Linked DNA regions of Homo sapiens. The protein of the gene in region 1 interacts with the protein of each later gene in a pairwise test. Each region holds a gene or a part of one and is shown in the gene's direction. Other genes may lie near its edges. The genes, in order: DR1, RAI2, ZNF829, DCAF8, MKRN2, SPMAP2 and LARP4B.

Region 1 (4,301 bases):
TTTAGGTCCTGTACACTTATGAGGGTACTCTTTTAAATTTAAAATAAAAAATACAGATGAGAAATACATAGTCTGAGTTGGTTAAGTGATTCTTAGGTGCTAGACACTGTCAAACGCCTTATATTAATTACCTGTTGATTCCTACAACCCTAAAACTAATAACAATATGATATTTATTGCTTCATTTTTAATTTTTAAGAGGCAGGGTCTTGCTTTCTCACCCAGGTTGGAGTGCAGTGCCACAGTCATAGTTTACTGTGGCCTCAAACTCCTGGGCACAAGCGATCTTCCTGCCTCAGCCTCCCGTGTAGCTGGGACTACAGGCGCCTGCCACCACGCCGGCCAATTTTTTTTGTATTTTTAGTAGAGACAGGGTTTCACCCTGTTAGCCAGGATGGTCTCGATTTCCTGACCTCATGATCTGCCTGCCTTGGTCTCCCAAAGTGCTGGGATTATAGGCGTGAGCCACCGTGCCTGGCCATGTTGGTGAATTTGATATACAGAACTTAGAATAATGCCTTTCTGAAGTTTTTAGGGAGGTCAGGGGAAGTGAGTTAACTTAATAATAGGACAGTACTATGCTTTTTGGCATCAGATTATTTCTAAAGAAGGTTGATGAAAACAGCTTAACATTTGAAATACTTAAAGTTGTAAATCATTCAAAATGTCTAAAAACCACAGTTTGCATGGGCATGTAGATTTGTAAAGGTGTTTTTGGCATTCTCCCAGAAGAGCAAATCCCTGAAGTTAGAAGTGAGAGCATGTATACTAAAAGGAGTCTGGTTCAACATAATGATTGAAAGACTTCAAGAACTGATGACTTAAATTGATTTACTGTTTTTTGCCACCTATGTTTCATCATTGGTTCACAATACAAAATATGCCTTTGGGGCATTAGTCAATATACCAAAACTATAAAATATAATTTTAAATACTATGACCCAAAAGGAAATTTTATGCCTTGTCTTTTCTGGATTACAGAAGGTATTTAGGGTGTGTGAATTTTTTTTTTTTTTTTTTTTTGAAACAGGGTCTTGCTCTGTCATCCAGGCTGGAGTACAGTAACGCAGTCATGGCTCGTGACATCCTCAATCTCCTGGACTTAAGCAATCCTCTCACCTCAGCCTCCTGAGTAGCTAGAACCATAGGCACGACCCATCACACTCGACTAATTTTTTTACTTTTTGTAGAGACGAGGTCTTGCCATGTTGCCCGCGGTGGTCTTGAACTCCTGGACTAAAGGGATCCTCCCACCTTGGCCTCCCAAAGTACTGGAATTACAGGCATGAACTACCATGCCTAGCCCATTTTTTTTTCCTTATAAAATTTCCTTTCTAAATACGAAAAGGGGAGAAACATTTTTATTAGTGCTTCTTGTATCTTTATAGTCTTTCAGCTACGTTTTTTTTGCCACATCATTTAAATATGTTTTTATTTTTCCTGTTAAGTTTTATTTTCAAGAGAAACCTGTTGGCTGACTATAAGTGCTGAATTTCATGACTTTTATTTCCACCAGTATTTTTTAAACTTGGCAGTTTGAGTATCTGCTAAAAATAGCTTCCTGTTGGTATATTGGACAAAAGAAAAACTTCTGTTCTTTTATTCTGTCCTACCAGAACTTAGTAGAGAATGTGTTACCAGCCTACTTTTTCTAAGTCAAATGACACAAAATGTTTTTTCTTACTAAAACCATATGTTCTTATAATGGGCTTTTTTTTCTTCCCTGCTTACAGGAAATGCTTTGGTCTTTTAAAAATTAGTCAGAATGAAAAGTGAAGGCATGTGCCTTGGTTCTTCAAGTTTTAACTGATTTGCCACCTAATATTTAGCAGATTGATAAAATATTTGTCTTGGCTGCCCAGACAGTTGTTGTACAACTATAAAATAGGTAAAATTATTAGAAAACAGCAAAACATTCCCCTCCCCCAAAGAAAAGCCCACAAAAACTTTAGGTCTACGGGTTGGGGGAAAGCTGTGTTTTATCACCCTTTCATATTTTAATATTTTCATTTCTCTAGCACTAGAAAGTTTGGGATTTGGCTCTTACATCAGTGAAGTAAAAGAAGTCTTGCAAGAGTGTAAAACAGTAGCATTAAAAAGAAGAAAGGCCAGTTCTCGTTTGGAAAACCTTGGCATTCCTGAAGAAGAGTTATTGAGACAGCAACAAGAATTATTTGCAAAAGTAAGTAATTTATTTAAATTATTTTCCTCTGAATCCTACCCTGTTTGCTAACTGAAATTGCTTCCTAAATTAACAGACATACCCAGAGGATTCCCTTTTTCTAGGTAGTTGATTATAGATTCTGGTGTTCAGAGCTGACCAATTTGACTCTGGTTTATGTGAAAGTAAATATTTGCAGCAATCTGTTCTAAAGAGAACAACTCCAAATACCTATTGAAATTTCACTTGATATTTTTTCAGACAGAATGACCATTTTAAGGCATGAAAAGTATACCTAAATATTCTTAAGATTTAAAATGATGAGCTGATGAGAAAATACTATATCAAATTTTATGATGCATGACATACCAGCAAAATCTGATTAATATCAACTGTGTAGTTAAATTAGGTCTTTAATATACACCTTTGAAGCATTTTAATCTTAAAAAATATTTTAAAGCTAGTAGAGCAAAGGGAGAAAATGTCTTCTTCCTTGCTTGTAATAATTCTAATATCTAGACTCTGAAGGATTAGAACCAAATACTAATGTTCTCTGTTTCAAAAAGAGAAGGGAGGGGAATTGGTGGCAATGCTGTGTTTTCCCTTCTAAGTTCTGGCCTCTCATTTGAAATTATAAGGCAGCTTTGGATTGAATAGAAGAGAAGCCGTAGTAACCATTAGAACTGGGAAGTATCATTTTAGGTAAACTCTTCCAGGTTAGTCCTGTAGCTGATCTCTCTGCAGCCATAACAATCAGTTTGGTTTACATCAAACTGCATTTTAGTCTTAAGTATTGTTGGTCACTAGACACCAAGTACCATTTAAACAAGATAAAAAGAAAAACTTACATTTATTGAGTTCTAACCACGTGTTAATCACATTGCCAAGTAATTTTCCTGCATTATCTCATTTAATCCTCCCAACAACCTATCATAGGCACTAAAGAGGAAAAGCCTTTGAAGCAGGCGTTAGTACATGCAATGTTATAATTCATATGAATATGAGGTACAAAAGAAGAGGTGTTGATGTTTTAAAAACATTAATGGCTATTTATTGATATTGCAGACCACCTAGAGAATGCTAAATTGAACATTTAGTGACAGAAGATTTTCTCCTGGATACTTTAAATACATAAAAACTTGGCAGAGTTTTTATGAAATATAAATTTTATTGTATTCATTTACATATTAAAAAATAGACTCAGAGGCGGAAAAACTTCCTTGAAATTGTTTGTCATTTGTTCTACAGTTACTTACTGAAGTCATTACTATTTACCAAGCATCATGCTAGGTGCTAGGCTTACAAGAGTGAACAAGGAGACAGGGTTCCTGTCATTATAGAGCTTAATCTACTGGGGAAGATTGAGTGGGAAAGATTGACTTAAATAAAACAGTAAGTTCAGAAAGTTAGGAAGTGTTGGAGTCTATATTTAAACTTAGGTATTTTGACCCAAAAGCCTGTACTGTTTCTAACATACCATGCTGATGCTCTAGCCTCCATTTTATATGCTTAAACTTATTATGGGGCTTTTAAATAGAATATGTATTATCCTTGCCAGGGCAAAATATAAAGAAATAATTGACTGCCTGCTATATCTGTCTTCACCTTTCTATCCCTATTATCTGTTTTTTTATTCCTCTTTTTTGTCTCCCTTGTTTCTTACCCTGACTTATGTATGAAGATCTCTAGTATTTCTTTACTATTGTGAGGATGACCAGCGGAGAGGTAATATTATAGCAGTTGCCTAGTACTTCTTCCCTAGAGCACTGAAGTTCTAAATATGAAAGAGTGGATAAGTAAATATATCTTTTTTATCACTTTCATTTTGTTTCATTTTTTAGACTTTAAATATTAACACAATGACAGCCTCATTTGAAGCTAGCAGCAAATATTTGGAAGGAGGGAACCTTTAATACATCAAGATTAAAGTTAACTTTAAATTATAAATGAGTCATTTTAATATGTGGGAGTGAGAATCTTAAAACATAATGAAAACCTCCAAAAGAAAAGTGAATTAGGAAATACATGCCTGCTTACCTGTCTTTCACACCCCAATTTTAGAAGAAAAATACTTGGGATGGATTGAGTAGGGGGCAAGAGAGAAAAAAATATATTACAGTAAATATCACTGAAAAATGTT
Region 2 (3,551 bases), on another chromosome or scaffold:
CAGGAGGTGGCCAGAGGTCTGTGGGAGGTGCCGAGGACATTGAGAAAGTGTGCCTGACCTATGAGGATTTTCGTTTCCAACAAGTGTTCCATCTCCCCAGCCCTAGGCTCACCAATGCCCTCTTCCTCTTGGCAGCTAGATATTAGGAGAGGCCACAGATCAGATAGATGAGCTGATTGGGGAAGTGACAGTGGACCCAATGACCATTCATGCAAGTCATCATCGATCTTCACCTTGCCCTGGGGAACGGATTTTGCTGTTACTGGGAGAAATGGGAATGTCATTGGTCAGAGGGAGACAGAGAGACAACTGTAATGACCCTTGTGCTTATCAAACCTCTTTTGGAAGAATGATTGCTACAGAGTATTTAAAATGCCATTTTCCATAGTCATAGCATATTCACATGTGACAAGGCATTATTTTTTTCCTTAAAGGAAAGTAAGTCTTCACTGCTTATTTGAATTTGAACAAGTCAAATTTCTACATATCTTAACTGTCTGACATAGCAACTTGGACTGAAACTTCGTTTTTGTTGAAGGCCAAACATATAAGCTGAGAATTAGGCTTAAAAAATGCCTGGTTTAACCTCACTTGGCTATTTACTGATTACATCATCTGCATTTATAGCTTAATCATCTGTTAAATTGGGGTTCTCCACGCACACAGGATCATGTGGTTGTGTTTGTATATATTAGGAGATATCTATAACCTGAACATATACATAGAGAGATGGGTTATGCTCCCTGGTTAACTAAAACGTGGAAACTTTCTAAAGATGTGAGAGAGCTCTTAAGGCAATTATAAATAGTCTTTTAAGGAAGATTCATATTGTATGTTCTGTGTTGCAGGCCAAGTGGCATCAGAGCTGAGTGATGGACGACCTGCAGTCCCAGAACCTCTCCATGGACATGACTGACTCCCCTCCTGCCTTGGCTAATAACAGACTGGAGAATGGCATGGCTCAGCTGATCACCACCGAGGCCTGGAACATCAACTCCACTGACCTGGTAAAGAAGGCCCTGGTGACCGTGCCAGCCCCATCCATTCTGAACCCCCCTGCCGAGTCTCAGAGTGGCATGGCTCTGAAGGTGGCGGCCACTGTGTTGCAGCCCCTGTGCCTCGGGGAGAGCCCAGTGGTGATGCCCATTCACATGCAGGTGGAGGGAAGCTCCGCACCAGAGCTCAATCCGAATGGCAATGCCACCTACGTCATGACCACCCAGGGCCCCGTGCAACTGCCCGTGGTGCTGGAGCAGCACGTCTTTCAGCACCTCAACTCCCCTCTGGTCCTGCCGCAGGAGGCCCCATGCTCCTCCAGTACCATCCACAACAACCTCTTCCAGGGAGCGGAGGACCCCGAGGCCCAGCCCCAGCTCCTGGACCTGAGGATCCCCAGCCAGCCGCAGGAGCCCACTTTGCCATTTGAAGCTGTGCTCCAGAATTTGTTTCCCTCCCAGGGCACTCTCGGGCCCCCACCCTGTCAGCCTCCTCCTGGCTATGCCCCTGTGCCCCCACAGCCTTTTAGCTCCCCCTTGTCCCCCCTGGTCCCACCAGCCACCCTCTTGGTGCCGTATCCTGTAATCGTCCCCTTGCCTGTGCCAGTCCCTATTCCCATCCCCATCCCGATGCCTCAGAGTTCTGAATCCAAGTTCAGCTCCAGTTTCCCCAAGCCACCATCTTCCTTCGGCCTGCACCCCTTTAAAGGCACCCAGACCCCTCTGGAAAAAGATGAACTGAAGCCCTTTGACATCCTCCAGCCTAAGGAGTACTTCCAGCTCAGCCGCCACACGGTCATTAAGATGGGAAGTGAGAACGAGGCCCTGGATCTCTCCATGAAGTCAGTGCCCTGGCTCAAGGCTGGTGAAGTCAGTCCCCCAATCTTCCAGGAAGATGCAGCCCTAGACCTGTCAGTGGCAGCCCACCGGAAATCCGAGCCTCCCCCTGAGACACTGTATGACAGTGGTGCATCAGTGGACAGCTCAGGTCACACAGTGATGGAGAAACTTCCCAGTGGCATGGAAATTTCTTTTGCCCCTGCCACGTCCCATGAGGCCCCAGCCATGATGGATAGTCACATCAGCAGCAGTGATGCTGCTACCGAGATGCTCAGCCAGCCCAACCACCCCAGCGGCGAAGTCAAGGCTGAAAATAACATTGAGATGGTGGGCGAGTCCCAGGCGGCCAAGGTCATTGTCTCTGTCGAAGATGCTGTGCCTACCATATTCTGTGGCAAGATCAAAGGCCTCTCAGGGGTGTCCACCAAAAACTTCTCCTTCAAAAGAGAAGACTCCGTGCTTCAGGGCTATGACATCAACAGCCAAGGGGAAGAGTCCATGGGAAATGCAGAGCCCCTTAGGAAACCCATCAAAAACCGGAGCATAAAGTTAAAGAAAGTGAACTCCCAGGAAATACACATGCTCCCAATCAAAAAACAACGGCTGGCCACCTTTTTTCCAAGAAAGTAAATAACGGCTTTTTAAAATTTGTATGATTATAATATGGGGAAAGGTGCATTGGTTTTATAAAAAGGCATTTAAAACAAATTATCTTTGTTAATTATTTTGGGGAGTAGTTGGGAAATGGAAAGGTGAATTGGCTCTAGAGGCCCTGTATGCTAGTATCATTTTCTTTTTTAATTTTTGACTTTTCACAAATGAGTAAATAAGAGCAACCTATTTTTCAAGCAGATTGCACATTTTTTGCAGCTTTAATGGAATATTGGGTGAATTAGAGGGGTAAAAAAAGCTATTTTCATTGCCACAAAGTGCTTTGATGATGTAATACCTAATAAAGGGTAGGATGAATATTTCACAATAAATGTTTGTTTGCACTAATTGGTTGCAGTATTTCATCATTTATAAAATTTACATTCCTTAACTGGCATAATTTGGCCAAAACTCTTGCTTGTGAAAAGCTGTAAGTTATCTGTGATTAGAGACCTAAGCTTTTCAGGCATATTGGAAAATATTGCCCTATGCCCCAGTAAAAGGAGGGTTAGGAATATGGATGACCTTGAGCAAGTCATTTCCCACTTTGGCCTTGGGTTTTTTAAATTTCATTTGTAAAATAAATAAATAAATAAGTGGCAAAGAAAAGGGACAGCGAGGTGAGTTTCAAGTGCCTGAGGCTCCTTCCAGTTCATATAGTTCTTGGGTGTGTAGAATTCTGTGCCTGGACCTTCCATAGTGTAAGACAAGACAAATGTCTCACAACAAAAAAGTAACCTGCTTCCTTCCCACCAACCAAAAGTTTAGTTGGAAATGCCCTTCTTTTCAAGGGCAGTAAGAGCATTGTTCTCAATGATTGAAAATCTTGCAAGTCAGAAGTAGTGGCGCAGGCTAGTGGATCAAGAGATGGCTCATACTTTTTCCCAGCCTTGGATAGAGATCTTTGAGGGTGGAGCCAGGGAGAGAAGACAAAGTCATTCTTTTCTAGTTTAGCCTGGTGATTATCAAATGGGGTGATTGTAACCCCCGGGGGATATCTGGCAAAGCCTGGAGACACTTTTGGTTGTCGCAGCTGGGGGGAGAGATTACTACTGGCATCTAGTG
Region 3 (4,301 bases), on another chromosome or scaffold:
GCGAACCCGGCTCACTTCAGGCTCCGTCTCCCAGGTTCACACCATTCTCCTGCCTCAGCCTCCCGAGTAGGTGGGACTACAGGTGCCTGCCACCATGCCTGGCTAATTTTTTGTATTTTTAGTAGAGACGAGGTTTCACCATGTTAGCCAGGATGGTCTCAATCTCCTGACCTCGTGATCTGCCTGCCTCAGCCTCCCAAAGTGCTGGGATTACAGGCATGAGCCACCGCGCCTGGCCACACCCAGCTAATTTTTGTATTTTTAGTAGAGACAGGGTTTCGTCATGTTGGGAAGGCTGGTCTCGAACTCCTGACCTCAAGTGATCCTCCCGCCTTGGCCTCCCAAAGTGTTGGGATTACAGGCATGAGCCACCATGCCCAGCCCTATCTCTCTTTTTAGATCTAATAATATTTGCTTATATATCTGGGTGCTGCAGTGTTGAGTGCCTATAAATTTAGAACTTTATATCCTCTGGCTGAATTGACCCATTTATCATTATATAATGACCTTCTTTGCTTCTTTTGCAGTTTTTTACTTAATGTCTGTTTTATTTAAGTATGGCTACTCTCACTTGCTTTTGGTTTGTTTGTGTGCAGTATTTTTTTTTCATCTCTTCACTTTCAGTCTATGATTTTATATATAAAGTGAGTTTCTCACAGCCAGTATATAGGTGAGTCATATTTATTTTATCCATTCAACCAGACTGTATCTTTTAAGTGGGGAATTTGACTGTTTACATTCAAGGTTATTATTAATAGGTGAGGATTTATTCCTAATCTGTTAATTTTTTATGGTTGTTTTATATCCTTTTTCTTTCCTCTTATCATTTGGTTTGGTGGTTTTATGTAATGGTTACATCTGAGTCCTTTCTCTTTCCATTTGTGTATCTGCTCTACCAGTGAGCTTCTTATTTTCATTTGTTTAATGATGGTAGATATGTCTTTTACTTCCAGATGTAGGACACCCTTTGCCATTTTTGATCGGGCCACCCTAGTTGTGATACATTTTCTCTGGGAAAAACTTTCTCCTTCATTTTTGAAGGATGGCTTTGCTAGGTACAGTATTCTTGGCTGACAGTGTTTTTTTAGCACTTTGAATATATCATCCCATTCTTTCCTGGCATGGAAGGTTTCTGCCAAGGTATCTGCTACTAGTTCTGATGAGGGTTCCCTTGTATGTGACTTGACGCCTGAGGGTTCCCTTATATGTGACTTGATGCCTTTCTCTTGCTTTTTTTAGAATTCTCTGTCTTTGACTTTTGACAGTTTGACTGTAATGGGCCTTGGAAAACCTTTTTGGATTGAATCTATTTGGGCATCATTGAGCCTTCTGTATCAGGATGTCTATATTGCTTACAAGACTTGGAAAGTTTTCAGTTATTTTGTTAAATAGGTTTTTATGCCTTTGCCCATCTCTTCTCCTAGAATACCCAAAATTTGAATATTTGGTTGCTTTATGATGTCCCATATGTCATCTAAGCTTTTTTCAGTTTTAAAAATTATTATTTTTTACTTTTTCTTCCTGGATTCTTTTAAAAAACCCTGTCCTCAAGTTCAGAAATTCTTTCTTCTGCTTGATCTAGTCTATTGTTGAAGCTCTCAATTGTGTTTTTTATTTCATTCATTGAAATTTGTCAGTTTCAGGACTTCTGTTTGGTTCTTTTTCATGATATCTATCTGCTGAATTTCTCATTCAGATCATGAATTGTTTTTTCTGATTCTTTTGGTTTTTATCCATGTTCTATTGTTTCCCACTGAGCTTCTTTAATATCATTATTTTGAATTCTTTTTCAGGCACTTGATAGATTTCTTGTTTGTTGGAATCTGTTGCTGGAGCATTATTGTATTACTTTGGAGATGTCATGGTTCCATGCTTTTTCGTGTTTCTTTTATCCTTACATTGATATCTGTGTATTTCTTGTTATGGTCATTTTTTCCAATTTTATGGATTTGTTTTCATAAGGAAAACCTTTTTCCTGTAGATGTATTTATAGTGTTGGTTGGGTAGGTTGCTTTGGCTTTGTTATAGGTGGATGCAGTGGTATAATCTCCATATGATTTCTCTGGCTGCAATCAGTGTCAGCAGTGTCTGTGAGTTCCTCAGTGGCTTAGGGCTTGGTTGTTAGTGGAAGCTGTGATGAGGCTTTTCTCATTGTTAGCAGGGCCAACAATGGTGATAGGATGAGGGGTATGCCAGGTAAAGGGGAGATCCATGTGGGAAGGCCCTGAGGGGCAGGGAGAACTTGAGGTGCTTGAAGGACTGGGGCTTCTTGAGCAAGTGGAAGTGGAGTATAACACAAGGTTGTAGAGGTAGGCAAGAGCCTCATTATTGGAGTCTTCTTGGTAATTACCAAGGAGTTTAGATTTTCAGGAGGGCAAAGTGAGACCAAATATCACACCAGGTGCTGAATGGATTAGAGGGTGCTAGAACATACTGGGGAAACCATTAGGAGATTCCTGTAGTGGTCTAGGAAAGAGGGGATTCAGTAATTAAATGAGGACAACTTTAAGAGATTTTTAGGGACTCACCCAGACTAAGTTTGGCCAATGATTGTGTGGAGGGAATACTTAAGATAGTCTAGCTGGCTTTATTTTGATGTCTTCAAGCCATTTTATTTGCCCAATATCTGTTTTTGCTATGACATTTTTTCATAATAATAGCTACCAATACTGAGTGCTTACTTTATATCAGATTATTTATATACGTTATTCCTCATCTTTTTAGCAATCATAAGTTAAGTGTCAGTCCCATTTTAATAAACAAGGAAAAGAGGGCTCAGAGGTTGCCTTAAAGCATAGAACTGGGGCTCACTGTTTATATGTTGACATGGAGTTCCATTCTTCTCATAGAGTACATTTCATCCTATCTTAACTCTCTTGTGTCTCAAACTTGAGCCACCTTCCTTCTCAATCACTGCTATGACTTGAATTATTCATTTCTTTCTCCCAAGGTCAACATCACAGAATTCCAGAGCAAATTATTTTCAGTGAGTTCCTAGCCCATATCATGCTGTATGCACAGAAGAGATGTACCTGTCTACTCTTCCCACCAGTTGTGTTCAGCATATTAGATTTGTCGGAGGCTGGTGATTTGCCAGTATACCATTGCACAGTCACTGAACTCCACCCGCCCCCGACATTTAAACCTTTCAACACATTTGTTATTCTTAACAGTCCTTTCATGTAGGTCTGACAGTTATCTACGAATTGCAAAACATACAGTATCATACTCTGTGCATGTGAGCATATGTTTATGAACGTGTATATAATTAGAATATCTCACGCATGGTGCATGCCCTGGAGCAGAAGCGGCATCCTGCTGGCCTGTCCTCCTCCATGGCCCTCCAGCTTAACCCCTGCCTGGGCATGCTGATGGCCTTGCAGTCGGAGCTCCACAAGCTGTACGACGAGGAGACACAGAGCTGGGTCTCAGGCAGCGCCTGTGGGGGATCTGGGGTGGGGGCAAAAAAAATTTTTTTTTTTTAATTAGAATCTCTCTATAATATGGAGGATGGTGCTGAACACTGTGTATTCACCAAGGCTTAAGGTGACTCTGGTTCAGACCAAAATTTGAGGATCATAGAGGTCATCTACTTTCTGAATCCACATCCTCAGCTTCTTTTATTACCTCTCCTAATGTCTGTGCTTTTCTTGTCAGTTTTACAGATTGCCTCTCCACCTTTGAAAACTGTGTAATTTCTCAGATATTCTTTTCAGTTTAATTCTCCCATTTCTTTTTTAGAAGTTTTAACTTGCCCAGAATAGGAAAATTTATTTGCCTTTGTATTTTCTTTCAGATCTGGAATCAATGTGTGAGACCAAAATATTATCTCTAAAGAAGAGACATTTCAGTCAAGTAATAATTACCCGTGAAGACATGTCTACTTTTATTCAGCCCACATTTCTTATTCCACCTCAAAAAACTATGAGTGAAGAGAAACCATGGGAATGTAAGATATGTGGAAAGACCTTTAATCAAAACTCACAATTTATCCAACATCAGAGAATTCATTTTGGTGAAAAACACTATGAATCTAAGGAGTATGGGAAGTCCTTTAGTCGTGGCTCACTCGTTACTCGACATCAGAGGATTCACACTGGTAAAAAACCCTATGAATGTAAGGAATGTGGCAAGGCTTTTAGTTGTAGTTCATATTTTTCTCAACATCAGAGGATTCACACTGGTGAGAAACCCTATGAATGTAAGGAATGTGGAAAAGCCTTTAAGTATTGCTCAAACCTTAATGATCATCAGAGAATTCACACTGGTGAGAAACCCTATGAATGTAAAGTATGTGGAAA
Region 4 (4,301 bases), about 67 Mb from region 1:
GTGTGGTGGCTCATGACTATAAAACTAGAGCACTTTGGAAGGCCAAAGCTGGAGGATAGCTTGAGGTCAGAAGTTCAAGGCCAACTTGGGCAATATAGCAAGACTGTGTCTCTACCAAAAAAAAAAAAAATTAAGAAAAAATTTTAATTTTTTAATTAATTAAATATCTCCAGGTGTGGTGGTATGCTCCTGTAGTCCCAACTACTTGGGAGGCAGAGGAGGATCTCTTGAGCCCAGGAGTTTGAGGCTACAGTGAGCTGTGATTACACCACTGCACTCCATCCTGGATGACAGAGTGAGACCCTGTCTCAAAAAAAATAACTAAAAGTAAAATATAAACTATCAAGGGCCTATCATATGTTCAGAAAGTGGTAGGAAAGTTTGTATTAATCTTTCTATGCTTACTGTCTATCACAGGGCTTGACAAACTGTAGTGCTTGTTTTTATAAATAAAGTTTTATTGGAACACAGCCATGGCCTTACTTTACATGTTGTTTATGACCACTTTCATGCTACAATGGCAGAATTCAATAGTTTTAATAGAGATTAGATGGTTTGCCAGTTTACCAGCTTAAAACATTTACTGTCTTGTCCTTTAAGAAAAAGTTTGCCAAACTCCGTTCTAGCATCATATGTAGAATATAGTAAGCTATTAATAAACACTTAGTTGGGGTGTAGTGGCTTATACCTGTAATCCCAGCACTTTGGGAGGCTGAGGCAGGAGAATCTTTTGAGGCCAGGAGTTTGAGACCAAGCTGGGCAGATGCTGTCTCCACCAAAAAATAAAAATATTAGCTCAGCATGGTGGTGTGTGCCTGTAGTCCCAGCTACGCGGCAGGTTGAGGCGGGAGGATCGTGTGAGCTGGGGATGTCAAGGCTTAAGTCATCAGTAACCTAACTGCCAAAGCAAACAAAGTACTTTTCAAGTCTTTTTCTCTACTCTTGACATTATTACTCCTTCCCTGAAGCACCTTCTCTCCTTGATGTCCAACCACTCCTCAGTGTTGTTCATGGGTGTGTCTTCCTTTCTCCACCCATTAAATGCTGATGTTCTCCAGTAGCTCAGTCTTCAGCTCTCATCTTACTCTATACCAGGGAATTTTAACTTGAAGTACAAATATTATGTGAACCTCCAGAAAGTATGCTTATGTGCATTTTTCTGGGGAGAAGGGACTAGAGTTTTCATTATATTCTGAAACAGGCCAGAGATTCTAAAGGGCGAAGGGAAAATCTTCTCTGTATTTTCCCTTGGAGATCTAATTCCATTACCAATGCTTTAACTACCACCTTTCACACGGATATATGACTTACATCTGTGTCTGCAGACCACACTTATTCTGAACTCTAGACTTACACCTACTTAACAAATGGATATAATTAACTGATGACTTCAGCCAGAGAAGTCTCAGTGGTGAGTTGAGAACCAAAACCAGATTAGGATGGACTGAGAAGTGAATAGGAAGTAAGAAAGTGGAAATATTGAATGTTGATTGTTCTTTTCAGTAGTGTAACTGTAAGGGGAAGGAGAAAAAAAGCAATAGTAGGAAAGGACAGTCAGCAGAAGGATTTTTAGAAAGTGGCCAGCTGGTGATGAGGAAGAGGTTGAGAAATTAGATAATCATCAAACAAGGTCCCTGGAAGGATGAAATGAAAAGCATTTTTCAAGAGATTGGCTCTGAGATTGGAGGAGACTGGGTGAGAACAGATACTGGATCTGTCTTGTTCCTCACTGTATTTCTAGCACCTAGCATAATATTTGACACATAATATGTGTGTCCTCATGAGTTTAAAGCTTGGATTAGAGAGAGGAAGGAAGGTGAAGGTGTAGTGTGCTTGATAAGAATGAGGAAAGGAGAGGGAGTCTTGAGGATATGGGTGGTAGTTTTTAATAATTATTGTGGGGTATGAGAGGGAGAACAGGCCAAATACAGTTTTAAGGAGGGATTACAGACCCATTGACTTACATTAAGCATGGTTTCTGCCCGTGAGTAACCTTTTTCGGTAGGTAATGTACATGTAAAAAGCTCCATACTAATGTTAGTTGTTTCAGTGAAAAGTAGCAGTATGTGATATAAAACTTGAGGAGAGAGATAAACCACTTCAAACTGACAGAATTGAGGATTGCCACTTAAAATGGGAAGTATGTGGATAAAGGATTTAAGGGTTTGCCTGGCCAACAGATGAAACTCTGTCTCTACTAAAAATACAAAAATTGGCCGGGCGTGGTGGTGTGTGCCCATAGTCCCAGCTATTTAGGAGGCTGAGGCAAGAGAATTGCTTGAACCCATGAGGCGGAGGTTGCAGTGAGCCGGGGTCATGCCACTGCACTACAGCCTGGGTGACAGAGCAGGACCCCATCTCAAACAAACAAAAGATTTAGGGTTTGGAAATGGATTGGAAAAGGGATGCCCTTTAAGGAAGAGCACAAACCAAAAGCTTGGTTTGGAAAATGTTGTTTATCTGCATCCAGCTGGCAGTTTCCTGCCACTACATCAAATTGCAGCTCTTCAAGGGTTTCGTTTGTACATTTTTACATTTTCATTGCTTTTCCAACTGTAGGATTTATGACCAGAGGAAAATTGATGAGAATGAGAACAATGGAGTACTCAAGAAGTTCTGTCCTCATCACCTGGTAAGATTCATGAAGGGCCAGTTGCTGCAGGCTTCCCTGACTCAACCCCAAGGCTGCACCTGAACTTGTTGGTATGGTGGGAAGAGCTTGGACTTTCAAGTCAGTCATCTGGATTTGAATCCTGGCTTTACCACTTACCAGCTTTGTGATCTTGGCAGTCACTTCACTTCTGATAGCCTCAGTTTTTTAATCGACAAAATAGAAATAAAAATAACTGCCTTGCACCTTGATGGTGAGGCCTAATGAGACAGTGTACATAAAATGGCTAGCACATGGATGACAACCAAAAGAAAGCCCCAAGATGCTACCCCCTGAGGTGGTCATGTTTCATCAGTTGTACTCTTGTCTCTGTCTGTCTTTCTCAAATCTCTGGGAGAAGATATAGGGGAGTTTGAAGGAAAAGCTGTTTCCTGAAGATGGTATAACAAATGGGGGGGTGGGGCATCAGTCAGTATCTGCTCCTTATTGCAGGTGAACAGTGAGTCCAAAGCAAACATCACCTGTCTTGTGTACAGCCACGACGGCACAGGTACGTGAGCAGGGCCCAGCTCCTAGGCTGGCATGCCCCCTCTGTCTAGGGAGCTGCTGAGCCAGTGAGGCATGTGCCCTCCAGTGCTCACCACTGTGCTATAGCTCCAAGTAGAGCAGCTGGGGAGTAACTGCTGATGGTGAGCACATAGCGGGAGGATACAGTAGATGACCCTTGGAGATGCCAGGTACCATTTGCAGAATGCTGCAGATGATATTTGGCAGGGCCTGTCCTGAAGCCCAGGTTGCTTGCCTGAGCAGGTTCTTATGCCTTTGACTCATTCCTGAGTTAATGGGTATGACCTTTTTGAGCATTCTGCTGCCCCTGGGTTGGCAGTGTGTTCTTAGTCTACCCTGTACAGTCGGACTTGCCTGGTGTTCCAAATAAGATGGGTGCTACACCTGGGTATTTGGAGGGGGCACTACTGGCAAGAAGCCCCACCCCAACCCCCACCTCCTGGTCCCTGCTTTTTTCAGCCTTTGCCTTCACTGCTATGTTCTTGTTCTTGGCAGAGCTCCTGGCCAGTTACAATGATGAAGACATTTACCTCTTCAACTCCTCTCACAGTGATGGGGCCCAGTATGTTAAGAGATACAAGGGCCACAGAAATAATGCCACAGGTGAGACTGTCTTCCTAGGTTTCTTTGGCCCAAGCCTGTTGGCTTTGGAGAACCACAGTGTCTTACTCAGGTTATACAAATAGAAACTACCTGCCTGTGTTGCCATGGGCACTGAGGGATTATCCTGAATTGGGCTGGAGTTTTCATGTTTTCTCCGCTATGCTAGAGGAGAAAGCGCTCAAGAGCATCTCTTGCCACTCCAATAATGTTGCTTCTAATTGGTTTGGACATAAGGAGGCTAGACTAACTGTTTTTAAGATTTCAGGCAACTTCAAAAGAAGCACAAATGCCTTGTTAGGGAGTCAGGGAAAGCCCTCTTTAGTCAGTGGTCCTGAATTGCTTAAAATAGGGAGTGACCTTATACCTCTAGGAAGGAGGAGTAAACAATTCTTTTAGATGAGGCAGAAGAGGAGGAATGGTGGTAGTAACTAGCCCAAGATTGGCCTGTTTTGTTCCATGTCTGTGGTTCCCAAACTTTGGGGCACATTGAAATCATCTGATGTGTTTTGTTTTGTGTTTA
Region 5 (4,301 bases), on another chromosome or scaffold:
TTTGGCTGGGCACAGTGGCTCACGCCTGTAATCCCAGCACTTTGGGAGGACGAGGCAGGCGGATCACAAGGTCAGGAGATTGAGACCATCCTGGCTAACATGGTGAAACCCCGTCTCTACTAAAAATACAAAAAGTTAACTGGGTGTGGTGGCGGGCGCCTGTAGTCCCAGCTACTTGGGAGGCTGAGGCAGGAGAATAGTCTGAACCCAGGAGGTGGAGCTTGCAGCGAGCTGAGATTGCACCACCGCACTCCAGCCTGGACGACAGAGAGAGACTCTGTCTCAAAAAAAAAAAAAAATTATTTTATTTTTCAGAGGTGAGGTCTTGCTATGTTGCTTAGGCTGGTCTTGAACTCCTGAGATCAAGCAGTCCTCTTACCATGGCCTCCCAGAGTAATGGGATTACAGGTGTGAGCCACTGCACCTGGCCTAAGGCATGTTTAAATGGACAGCGTATTCCTAGATAATCAAGAGGTAAATTAGTACTGACTCCATGTGGCAGCGGACAAGGAGACACTCTCCATTGTCTTCCAGGGAAGCAGAGGGTTAGAGCTGTCTTCTTTATGCAAGTGTGTGAGGTCTCTGCGGTGAGTGTTGGCTTGTCTCAGATCTGGACAGACTGAGCTTACAAGGGCTGGGCCTAGGTCTTCTCACTCTTGCTCAAATGCCAGCACATAGAAGGAATTCAGGGCATGCCTAGTGAATGAATGAATTCATTGAATCATTTTCTTGGGGAGAAGTGGTGCTTCTTACATAGGACTAGGCTGCCAGCCTCAAGCCTCATGGTAAGGACGAGTCAGCATCTCTGATGTAGACATGGCTCAGAGTCGGGGGAAACAGTGCCCAGAGGAGCTGGGGGACTAGGGCCGCAGTCCTTACGGACTCTGACTCCACTGCAGTTTAACCTTTTTGGATCTCCGTGTTCTCAGTCCTAAATGGGTGGTGACCATGTCACCTCCTAGGAAAGCAAGGGGCTGGACCAGTGATGGTTTGAAGTCCTTTGTGTGGTCTGAGGGAGATGTCAGTGTCCTGACTTGGGGGAGCCTGGGCCTTTGCTCACAGCAGTCGCTGTCAGTGTTCCTTCCTGATCTCAGCTGTGGCAGTGTGGCTGCAGCTACTCCTAGGGCTCCTGCCACTCCTCAGTGGCCCACAACCAAAGCCTTCCTTCCTGTCTGTGCTTCAGATCTGCATGTTGACGTTCGAACACGAGATGGAAAAGGCCTTTGCCTTCCAGGCAAGCCAGGACAAAGTGTGCAGTATCTGCATGGAAGTGATCCTGGAGAAGGCCTCTGCTTCTGAGAGGAGATTTGGGATTCTCTCCAATTGCAATCACACGTACTGTTTGTCCTGCATCCGGCAGTGGCGGTGTGCCAAACAGTTTGAAAACCCAATCATTAAGTAAGTACAGCCAGGGGTCTTAGCTGTGGGAGCTAGGAGAATGTTTGATTTGAGACTTTATTCCGTCCACTTTTAAGCCCTCCGTTACCCTCAAGAGTAACTGGTGAGTTCTGGCCCCTGGCTGCATGAACTTCAGCAAGTCATTTACTCTTCCTGAGCCTAAGTGCCTGTTCCTATAAAAGATGGGCAACAATTCCTACCAAGCTTTCTGGGTGTTGGGGAGGAACTCAGCAAAGATGATCTGTGTAAAAAGGTGTTAAATGGCACTGACCTGTTTTCATCTCCTAGCCTTGTGTTTGAAATCCAGTAGTACCTGCCTGTAGCCCAGTTGCCTGTTAATCATTTTGAGCTTCGTTTTTTCCCCCCACCAAAAACGAAAATAGGGTTATTTGAGGATGAAGTGGAATAATGCATGTAAAACATTCTGCATGATGCCTGGCACATGGGATGTGCTCAATGTGGCCAACATAGGAGTCTCAAATTCTCCAGCAGGACAGGGGAAGAGCTGGCATGTGGAGAGGTTACTGCACGCGTTCTACTGTTCAGAACTCCACATCTGTCCGCTCATCTCATTCCCTCAAAGACCCTCCTCAGTTACAGATTAGGAAACAGGCCTGGGGTGCGGGGGTCAAGTAATTTGCCTAAAATCGTGTGGTGAAACAACTGCTCTATTGAGATAAAAGCCCACAATTTAACTCACCACTCATCCGCTTTCTGTCTCTACAGAGTTGCCTATTCTGGACACTTCTTATAAATGGAATCATAGAATTTGGGGCCTTTTGTGCCTGGCCCCTTTCACTGAGCATAGTGTTGTCAGAGTTCATCCCGACTGTAGCATGTGCCAGAGTCCCCTTCTCCTGGCGGAATATGTTCCATTGTATGGACGCAGCACATTTCCCTTATCCATTCCTCAGCTAGTGGACATTTAGGCTGTTTTAACTTTGCAACTATTATGAATAATGCTGCTGTCAACATTTGTGAACACAGCATGTGGGCATGTGTTTTCATTTCTCTTGGGTATACACCTGGGCGTGGGATTGCTAGGTTTTATGGTATAATAACTCTACATTAAACTGTTGGAGAATCTGCCAGACTCTGTTCAAAGTGGCTGCACCCTTTTACATTCTCACCAGCAATGTATGAGGGTTATTTCATCTGTCTTTTTTGTTGAGGAAACCATATATGTGTGTGTGTGTGTGTGTGTGTGTGTGTGTGTGTGTGTGTATTTTTTTTGCTTTAAGTTCTGGGGTACATGTGCAGAATGTGTAGCTTTGTTACATGGGTATCCATGTGCCACGGTGGTTTTCTGCACCTCTCAACCCATCACCTAGGTTTTCAGCCATGCATGCATTAGCTGTTTGTGCTGATGTTCTCCCTCCCCTTGCCCCTGCACCGACAGGCCCCGGTGTGTGATGTTCCCCCACATGTGTCCATGTGTTCTCATTGGGAAACCCTATTTTGTTAATAGTAAATAAGGTTCTTGGATGATTGTGATTTCATCTTTTGGAATTTCTGGTGAAGGAAATGCCTGTAGTGGTGAGGCAGTTGAGCAAGAGGTTTAGCAGAGAGTGTGCCCAGGCTTCGTAACATGACTTCTCCCTTAGTAATCTAATTCTTATTTCAGGTCTTGTCCAGAATGCCGTGTGATATCAGAGTTTGTAATTCCAAGTGTGTATTGGGTGGAAGATCAGAATAAAAAGAACGAGTTGATTGAAGCTTTCAAACAGGGGATGGGGTAAGTGCTTTTGAGTTTCGACGTGCCCCTGCTGCCTGCCTGGCTCTGCTGTCAGCCCGTGTCCTCGTTCTCCTTCCCAGGAGTGTGGTCTTAGGGGCCTCTTCCTCTCTTCCTTCTCTCAGGCACCATGCTGGGCTCTGGGATGCAGCAATGAGCAAGGACATGGTGATGTGGACCTGTTTAGTTTTGGTGTTTTTTTTTTTTTTTTTTTTTTTTCGGTGAGATAGGGTCTCACTCTGTTGCCCAGGCTGGAGTGCAGTGGTGCAATCTCAGCTCACTGCAGCCTCAGCCTCCTGGGCTCAAGCAGGAGCCTCTTGAGTAGCTGGGGCCACCAGTAGTGTGCGCCACCATGCCCAGCTAATTGGCTAATTTTTTTTGGTAGAGACAAGGTTTCGCCATGTAGCCCAGGCTGGTCTTGAACTCCTAGGCTCAAGTGATCCTCCTGCCTCGGCCTCCCAAAGTGCTGGGATTACAGGCATGAGCCACCGTGCCCGGCCTCAAATGTTCCTCTTTATCCTGGTTGTCAGCATGTTGATATTTTGCCTAGGAGTGGAGTGGTTTTTCTCTACGCTTATGTCACTCCCCAAGATGAGCGAAATTTTAGCTATTGTTTCATTAACTTTTTTTCTGTCTTGTTTTTTTCTTTTCCTGCTGGGACTCTACTTCCGTTTATGATAGTTTTTTTATATTGTTCATAGATCTCTGGGGATATTCATTCTTTTTCAATCTTTTTTTCTTTTCATCTCCTTGAACATAGTTGTAGCAGCTACTTTGAAATCCTTGTTATCTTGAAGTTGACCTCTGTTGTCTTTTAAGAATGGATCACATTTTCCTGATTCTTCGTATGTCTAGTAATTTTAGATTTTATCCTTGACATTGTAAATATTACATTGTAGAGAGACTTAGGATTCTGTTATGGTTTATCTGTAAAGTGATGATTTTTTTTTTTTTGAGACGGAGTTTCACTCTTGTTGCCCAGGCTGGAGTGCAGTGGCACAATCTCGGCTCACTGCAACCTCTGCCTCTCGGGTTCAAGCGATTCTCCTGCCTCAGCCTCCCGAGTAGCAGGGATTACAGGCATGCACCACTGCACCTGGCCAATTTTTTGTATTTTTAGTAGAAACGGGGTTTCACCATGTTAGCCTGGCTGGTCTCAAACTCCTGACCT
Region 6 (3,191 bases), on another chromosome or scaffold:
GACCTTGTGATCCGCCCGCCTCGGCCTCCCAGAGTGCTGGGATTACAGGCATGAGCCACCGCGCCCAACCGAAATATTTTTTATTTGTAATTCACCCTGTTTTAAGTGTAGGTTTCGTAGCTCGATGTGGCAGTGCATATGACTGTAGCCCCAGCTACTTGCGAGGCTGAGGTGGGAGGATGGCTGGAACCCAGCAGTTCAAGTCAGGTGGAGGCTGCAGTGAGCTAAAGATCGTGCTCCAGCCTGGGAGACACAGCAAGACCCTGCCTCAAAATAAAATAAAATGGGGCCGGGCACGGTGGCCCACACCTGTAATCCCAGTACTTTGGGAGGCCGAGGCGGGCAGGTTGCCTGAAGTCAGGAGTTCGAGACCAGCCTGGCCAACATGGTGAAACCCTGTCTCTACTAAAAATACAAAAAATTAGTCGGGCGTGGTGGCGGGCGCCTGTAGCCCCAGCTACTCGGGAGGCTGAGGCAGGAGAATCACTTGATCCTGGGGAGCGGAGGTTACAGCGAGTCAAGGTCATGCTACTGCACTCCAGCCTGGGCAACAGAGCAAGACTCTGTCTCAAAATGAAATAAAATAATAAAGTAAAATAAAATGATAAAATGAAATAAAATAAAAAATAGGCCAGGCACAGTGGCTCACGCCTGTAATGCCAGCCCTTTGGGAGGCTGAGGCGGGCGGATCGCCTGAGGTCAGGAGTTCAAGACCAGCCTGGCCAACATGGTGAAACCCCGTCTCTGCTGAAAATAGAAAGATTAGCTGGCTGTGGTGGTGCACGTCTGTAGTCCCAGCTACTCAGGAGGCTGAGGCAGGAGAATTGCTTGAACCTGGGAGGCGGAGGTTGCAGTGAGCCGAGATCACGCCACTGCACTCCAGCCTGGGCGACAGAGCAAGGCTCTGTATCAAACTAAATAAATAAACAAATAAAAATAAAAAATATGTTTCAGTGGCTTTTAGTACAGTCACAGGGTTATGCAACCACCACCACAGTCAATTTCAGAACCTTTTTATGCCTTCAGAAGGCAGCCCCGCCCCCATCAGCTGTCACTCCCCATTCCCGTCTCCCAGCCCCTGGCACCTACACGTTCACTTCCGGACTCTGGATTGGCCTGTCCTGGACATTTGTATAAATGGAATCACACACTGTGTGTCCTTTCGTGTCTCTGGTCTCTCGCAGCACATGCTGTCCTCAAGGCTCAGCCATGCTGTAGCTGGTGCTAGAGCCTCGTTCCTTTTCTTGGCTGAGTCATATTCCACTCTGAGTGGACTACATTTTCATCCTCCGTTTCTCTGCTGATGAGCAGGCCGTTTGAATGGGGGAGCTTTTTTTTTTTTTTTTTTTTTTTTTTAAGATGGAGTCTTGCTCTGTTGCCCAGGCTGGAGTGCAGTGACGCGATCTGCGCTCACTGCAACTTCTGCCTCCCAAGTTCAAGCCATCCTCATGCCTCAACCTCCCGAGTAGCTGGGACTAGAGACGCACCACCACGCTCAGCTAATTCTTGTATTTTTAGTAGAGACGAGGTTTCATCATGTTGGCCAGGCTGATCTCTAACTCCTGACCTCAGGTGATCCACCTGCCTCAGCCTTCCACAGTGCTGGGATTCCAGGTGTGAGCTCCCATGCCCAGCCTGAATGTGGAGCTTTGAGGTTTGAGCTTCAGTGCTGTCCTTCTCTTCTGCCCCCACTAGGGCCCAAAGCTCAGTCGGACAAGTGCGTTCCTGACCGAGATCCTCGCTGGGAGGTGCTGGATGTCACCAAGAAGGTGGTGGCCAGCCCCCGGATCATCTCCCTGGCCAAGCCCAAAGTGCGCAAGGGCCTCAACGAGGGATACGACAGGCGTCCCCTCGCCTCTATGAGCTTGCCACCCCCAAAAGCATCACCAGAAAAGTGTGATCAACCCAGGCCTGGCCTCTAAGACCTCCGCTCCCAGTAAACACCCTCAGGCACCCTAACCCTGTGTATGTGATTATTCTGAGCTTTTTGGCCTGGAGAAGGGAGGGCGGGCTAGAAGGCCAAAAGAAGGATGAGGAGGACAATAATATTTATTTTTGCATCCAACCTGCGACTTGTCCAGCTGTTTATTTTCCGAGTCACTTTCATTGACCATCTCGAGCGCCTTCTGAATCTCTTCAGTCCAGACTTATTCGTCCATTCCTGAGGGCCCACGGGACCGTCGGAGTCGGAACGACAGCCACAGTCAAACCAGCCGACGCTCCTGCTGAGGGGCCACGGGACCGTCGGAGTCGGAACGACAGCCACAGTCAAACCAGCCGACGCTCCTGCTGAGGGGCCACGGGACCGTCGGAGTCGGAACGACAGCCACAGTCAAAGCAGCCGACGCTCCTGCTGAGGGCCCACGGGACCGTCGGAGTCGGAACGACAGCCACAGTCAAAGCAGCTGACGCTCCTCCTGAGGGCCCACGGGACCGTCGGAGTCGGAACGACAGCCACAGTCAAACCAGCCGACGCTCCTGCTGAGGGGCCACGGGACCGTCGGAGTCGGAACGACAGCCACAGTCAAACCAGCCGACGCTCCTGCTGAGGGGCCACGGGACCGTCGGAGTCGGAACGACAGCCACAGTCAAACCAGCCGACGCTCCTGCTGAGGGGCCACGGGACCGTCGGAGTCGGAACGACAGCCACAGTCAAACCAGCCGACGCTCCTCCTGAGGGCCCACGGGACCGTCGGAGTAGGAACGACAGCCACAGTCAAACCAGCCGACGCTCCTGCTGAGGGGCCACGGGACCGTCGGAGTCGGAACGACAGCCACAGTCAAACCAGCCGACGCTCCTGCTGAGGGGCCACGGGACCGTCGGAGTCGGAACGACAGCCACAGTCAAACCAGCCGACGCTCCTGCTGAGGGGCCACGGGACCGTCGGAGTCGGAACGACAGCCACAGTCAAACCAGCCGACGCTCCTGCTGAGGGGCCACGGGACCGTCGGAGTCGGAACGACAGCCACAGTCAAACCAGCTGACGCTCCTGCTGAGGGGCCACGGGACCGTCGGAGTCGGAACGACAGCCACAGTCAAACCAGCCGACGCTCCTGCTGAGGGGCCACGGGACCGTCGGAGTCGGAACGACAGCCACAGTCAAACCAGCTGATGCTCCTCCTGAGGGCCCACGGGACTGTCAGAGTCGGAACGACAGCCACAGTCAAACCAGCCGACGCTCCTCCTGAGA
Region 7 (4,301 bases), on another chromosome or scaffold:
CTGAGCACAGAATGCATATTTGGAGAAAGCAGTTCCACTCTTTTTGAGTAGGAACCAGACAGAAAAAAAGATAACATGGGTACTATTCTGTAGAAGAGTAGCTGAAATTAAGTGGCAGCAAATTCAGGGAGAAATGTAATTTGGTTTAATGTTCGGGAAGATTGCCATTTTTAAAAGTGAGATTTAAAGAATTTATTGAATTTAATGCAATTTCCATAAGTAAGCACAAGTTTTGACAAGTATATATTTAAGGTGTTTTTATGAAGCAGTCTTCACATTATCTTAAAATGTAGTTCTAAAATACGTGCAGGCTGGGTGAGGTGGCTCATTCCTGTAATCCCAGCACTTTGGGAGGCCTAGGTGAGTTTAGGAGCCCAGGAGTTCACCAGCCTGGGCAACATAGAGAGACCTCATCTCTACCAAAAAATCAAAAAATTAGCCAGGCATGGTGGCTCACACCTGTAGTCCAGCTGTTGGAGAAGCTGAAGTGGGAAGATCGCTTGAGCTTGGGAGGTTGAGGCTGCAGTGAGCCATGATCCTGCCACTGCACTCCATCCTGGACAACAGTGAGACCTTGTCTCCCCCCACCCCCAAAACATGCAAATTGGGACATCAAATTGTTAATGGTGTTTACAATGAACAGTGCCTTCAGGTAGCTGCAGCTACTCTACATAGATTTGCAAGTTTTTGTAGTGATAGGCTATGGTAGATGTTACCAGCCAAGGAGTGGCTGACAAACTCCTTTCACTGTTATTTCATTGTCATGTTAAAATTCATATTTTCCGTCAAAATAGTGATAGCTAGGATTATAATCTAGGTCTTCTAATCTTAGTAACGTGTTGTCTATGTTAGGGCCTCTCAAAGTTGTAAAAAAGCTGTATAGATGTGTTACCATCAATCGATTTCATTTGTTTTTATCCTAGTGTTAAAGGTACAAGTTTTTTTTTTTTTTTCTTTCCTGAGGCGGACTTTCACTCTTGTCGCCCAAGCTGGAGTGCAATGGTGCGTTCTTGGCTCACTGCATCCTCCGCCTCTCGGGTTCAGGTGATTCTCCTGCCTCAGCCTCCCGAGTAGCTGGGATTACAGGTGCCCTCCACCACACCTGGCTAATTTTTTTTTTTTTTGTATTTTTAGTAGAGTTGGGATTTCACCATGTTGGCCAGGCTGGTCTTGAACTCCTGACCGCAGGTGATTCGCCCGCCTCGGCCTCCCAAAGTGCTGGGATTGCAGGCGTGAGCCACGGCGTACCTGGCCAAAGGTACAAGTTTTAAATATGCTTTTATCATGCATACAGTACTCTTATAGATTCTGTCAGATTTAGGGATATTCTTTTCAGATTGATAAATTGCACAAAAATCTTGGAGTATATTCTTGTAATTTCTTCTACAAAATTCTCAAAACAACCTTTTTCCAATGGGGAGAAGACATGAACACTGAAGTCATGTTTTTGGAAAATACCTTGTTAAAAACAGACACTGCTGTAAGGGTTTCCTTGCTTATGCTCTTTTGTAGAACTTTATTGATGTGAAGAGTTCTCCTTTTTCTGTAAAAGCTTATTTTAGAGTACGAAGTAAATGAGGCACTCAGAGAGTTAACCTCATCAGGTCTGAGTTTAGTTCAGTTTAAACTTTTTGCTCTTATGCTGGTTGATATCTTTGTAACTACTCTACTTCTAGAGTTATTTTGATTGGAAAATGAATTCCTTTTTTAGAACATGGAATTGTAAGGTAGAAAACTGCTAGGTTCTCAAAAGAAGGGAGATAAATTCCAACTTGAAAGTTTTTTCCCCTAACGTTCTAATGCTTTGTTTTTCCTGTGTGTAAATGCCTTCCTTAGGAACAAGGAAAATTATTAACTCAGCTGTGTTTCCTTCCCTTCTCTTTCTCACTGCCCCCCCGCCACCCCATACCTTAATACCTTTTGTCCCTTCAATGCCTTTATAAACTCTGTCTTCTCATAGTTTTTCTGGTGAAGCTGTCATGGCTCCTATTTCAACCATAAAGGATTTGCAGTTCAGTGATGCTACTGGTTTTACATCTTCTTTCCCATCAACCCCATTGCCCTGGTTAGGAGACCTAGACCATGGAGTACATTGCAATATTGAAAGTATTTCATGTTTAACACAATTTTTTTTTTTTTTTTTGAGACCGAGTCTCGTTCTGTTGCCCAGGCTGGAGCGCACTGGCACGATCACGGCTCACTGCAACCTCTGCCTCCAGGGTTTAAGCGATTCCCCTGCCTCAGCCTCCTGAGTAGCTGGGACTACATACAGGTGCGTGCCACCACGCCCGGCTAATTTTTGTACTTTAGTACAAATTGGGTTTCACTGTGTTGGCCAGGCTGGTCTTGAACTTCTGACCTCAAGTGACCCATCTGCCTTGGCCTCCCAGAGTGCTGGGATTACAGGCGTGAGCCACTGCGCCCGGCCATGTTTAACACAAATTTGAAAGCGTACTGCTTAGTTTTTTAGGGGGAGTATGATAATCATAGAGATGAGACTTGATCTTTGCTGAAAGTGTTCTTTATGAAGTCTGATGTGCATAAATTTGCCCAATAAAATGCTCTTTTATTTACACAAATCATTTTAGTCGCACTGTAGCCAGAGTGTGGCATAGCCTGATGGCTGGCCTCTTTTCAGAAACTCATCAGGACTGCCCTAGGCCTCGCCCTGTGTGTGCTTCCACTTCTGTGTCTTCCTTCTTGCCCTGCCCCACCTTTTAATCAGGACCACGCCTCCCTCTCCTACCTTGGTGTTGCAAACGTTGTAGCCATTGCTGTTGGTAGATTCTTTGACTGAAATTGAATGTCCACCTCCTTTAAAAAAATTTTTAAAATATTTACTTAGCTCCTTAAACCATCCTTAAAAAGATATTTTAGGAGTCCTCCAGACTGCTTTGCATTAACTTCTGAGATTATGCTTCTCTGTTTCTGTAGCAACTAAGTGTACCTTTGTGTTACTTAGCACATAATTAATGTAAGCTCCTTGTGAGTGAGATTCTCTTTTTATGCTTGTCACCTCTGCCCAGCCCAGGGACTGGTAAACTGTAGATGTTTAGTGAAAGTAATTCAAGTAAAGAGATAAGAATGCTCAAAGACATCTCCCACCTGTGTTCCAGAGAAATTGTTTGCTGATTGTATACTTGCACATTTCTGTAAACAAATAGGAAAATCTTTACTCAAAAAGCATACATTAGAAAGTTTCTTATAGAGTATAAAAGTTATATTTACAAGTTTTTAACTGACTTTTCATAGCTACATTTAGCGCATAAAGTATTTTCAGATAGAGTAATTTAGCCACATGACCTTTAAATTATACTGTTTCTCAGTCTTTAAAAACGTGCCCTCTTTCGGCCAGGCACTTTGATTCACGCCTGTAATCCCAGCACTCTGGGAGGCCGAGGCGGGTGGATCACCTGAGGTTAGGAGTTCGAGACCAGCCTGGCCAACATGGTGAAAACCTGTCTGTACTAAAAATACAAAAATTAGCCAGGCGTGGTGGTGCGTGCTCGTAATCCCAGCTACTTGGGAGGCTGAGGCGGGAGAATTGCTTAAACCCGGGAGGCAGAGGTTGCAGTGATCTGAGATCACACCACTGCACTCCAGCCTGGGCGACAGAGTGAGGCTCTGTCTGAAAAAAAATGAAATAAAATAAAATAAATGCCCCCTTTTAGATAGCCATAGAATTTCTTACCTTTATTTTGCTTTAAAATAAAAACATCATGTTAACCCAAAATGAAACAATTGCAATATTGAAAATGTATCTTTTAAACTTTAGTGGATGTTTTTCCATTTTTTATTTTCTGTTAAGTATTGCTAAAGGGCCTGGCATAAAGGAGGGCCACTGAGATTACGGTAAGAAAAGGGTTCATTTTCTTCCTGTGGCAGGTGTTCTGACCAGTTGAACACTAGGGATGCAAAGATGAAAGGCAACAGGATTTTTCTGTAAGGCCCGTCATCCAGCAGGAATAGGAAAGTGCATTGTTCTATGTAAAGCCATAGAGACTGGCCTCTGGAAGTGGCTGGCTCTCAGCTGCATGCTTCTTTGGATAGTCTGCTACAACAGTCACATATATTATGGTGTATCCTGCCCTGCACTCTCCTTGTCTCCCCTTCTTGCTGTACTTTTTTCATAGTATTTATGACACTATAACATACCATATAATTTACTTACTAATTTATGTATGGCCCGTCTTCTCATACTTGAATGTAAACTCTTATGAGATCAAGATTTATATTTTGCTCCTCAGTATGAACCTAAGCCTTAGAACAATATCTGGTAGGTAGCATGCGCTAAATAGTTG

Evidence for each region.
Region 2: the proteins of DR1 (region 1) and RAI2 interact in binary tests that used the Homo sapiens proteins (3 or more experiments, as listed by UniProt).
Region 3: the proteins of DR1 (region 1) and ZNF829 interact in binary tests that used the Homo sapiens proteins (3 or more experiments, as listed by UniProt).
Region 4: the proteins of DR1 (region 1) and DCAF8 interact in binary tests that used the Homo sapiens proteins (3 or more experiments, as listed by UniProt).
Region 5: the proteins of DR1 (region 1) and MKRN2 interact in binary tests that used the Homo sapiens proteins (3 or more experiments, as listed by UniProt).
Region 6: the proteins of DR1 (region 1) and SPMAP2 interact in binary tests that used the Homo sapiens proteins (3 or more experiments, as listed by UniProt).
Region 7: the proteins of DR1 (region 1) and LARP4B interact in binary tests that used the Homo sapiens proteins (3 or more experiments, as listed by UniProt).

The regions. Positions count from the first base shown.
Region 1 is NC_000001.11:93,351,890-93,356,190, forward strand, and holds part of DR1 (protein Dr1), read left to right. Parts: intron 1-2,018; coding exon 2,019-2,182; intron 2,183-4,301. UniProt on the Homo sapiens protein: The association of the DR1/DRAP1 heterodimer with TBP results in a functional repression of both activated and basal transcription of class II genes.
Region 2 is NC_000023.11:17,799,332-17,802,882, reverse strand, and holds the end of RAI2 (retinoic acid-induced protein 2), read left to right. Parts: intron 1-848; 5' UTR 849-872; coding exon 873-2,465; 3' UTR 2,466-2,834; downstream 2,835-3,551.
Region 3 is NC_000019.10:36,891,967-36,896,267, reverse strand, and holds part of ZNF829 (zinc finger protein 829), read left to right. Parts: intron 1-3,049; exon of another isoform or gene 3,050-3,450; intron 3,451-3,796; coding exon 3,797-4,301. UniProt on the Homo sapiens protein: May be involved in transcriptional regulation.
Region 4 is NC_000001.11:160,223,922-160,228,222, reverse strand, and holds part of DCAF8 (DDB1- and CUL4-associated factor 8), read left to right. Parts: intron 1-2,559; coding exon 2,560-2,632; intron 2,633-3,103; coding exon 3,104-3,161; intron 3,162-3,673; coding exon 3,674-3,781; intron 3,782-4,301. UniProt on the Homo sapiens protein: May function as a substrate receptor for CUL4-DDB1 E3 ubiquitin-protein ligase complex.
Region 5 is NC_000003.12:12,573,609-12,577,909, forward strand, and holds part of MKRN2 (E3 ubiquitin-protein ligase makorin-2), read left to right. Parts: intron 1-1,183; coding exon 1,184-1,398; intron 1,399-3,022; coding exon 3,023-3,133; intron 3,134-4,301. UniProt on the Homo sapiens protein: E3 ubiquitin ligase catalyzing the covalent attachment of ubiquitin moieties onto substrate proteins.
Region 6 is NC_000019.10:360,931-364,121, reverse strand, and holds the end of SPMAP2 (sperm microtubule associated protein 2), read left to right. Parts: intron 1-1,695; coding exon 1,696-1,922; 3' UTR 1,923-2,375; downstream 2,376-3,191. UniProt on the Homo sapiens protein: May be involved (but not essential) in spermatogenesis.
Region 7 is NC_000010.11:924,882-929,182, reverse strand, and holds part of LARP4B (la-related protein 4B), read left to right. Parts: intron 1-518; exon of another isoform or gene 519-4,301. UniProt on the Homo sapiens protein: Stimulates mRNA translation.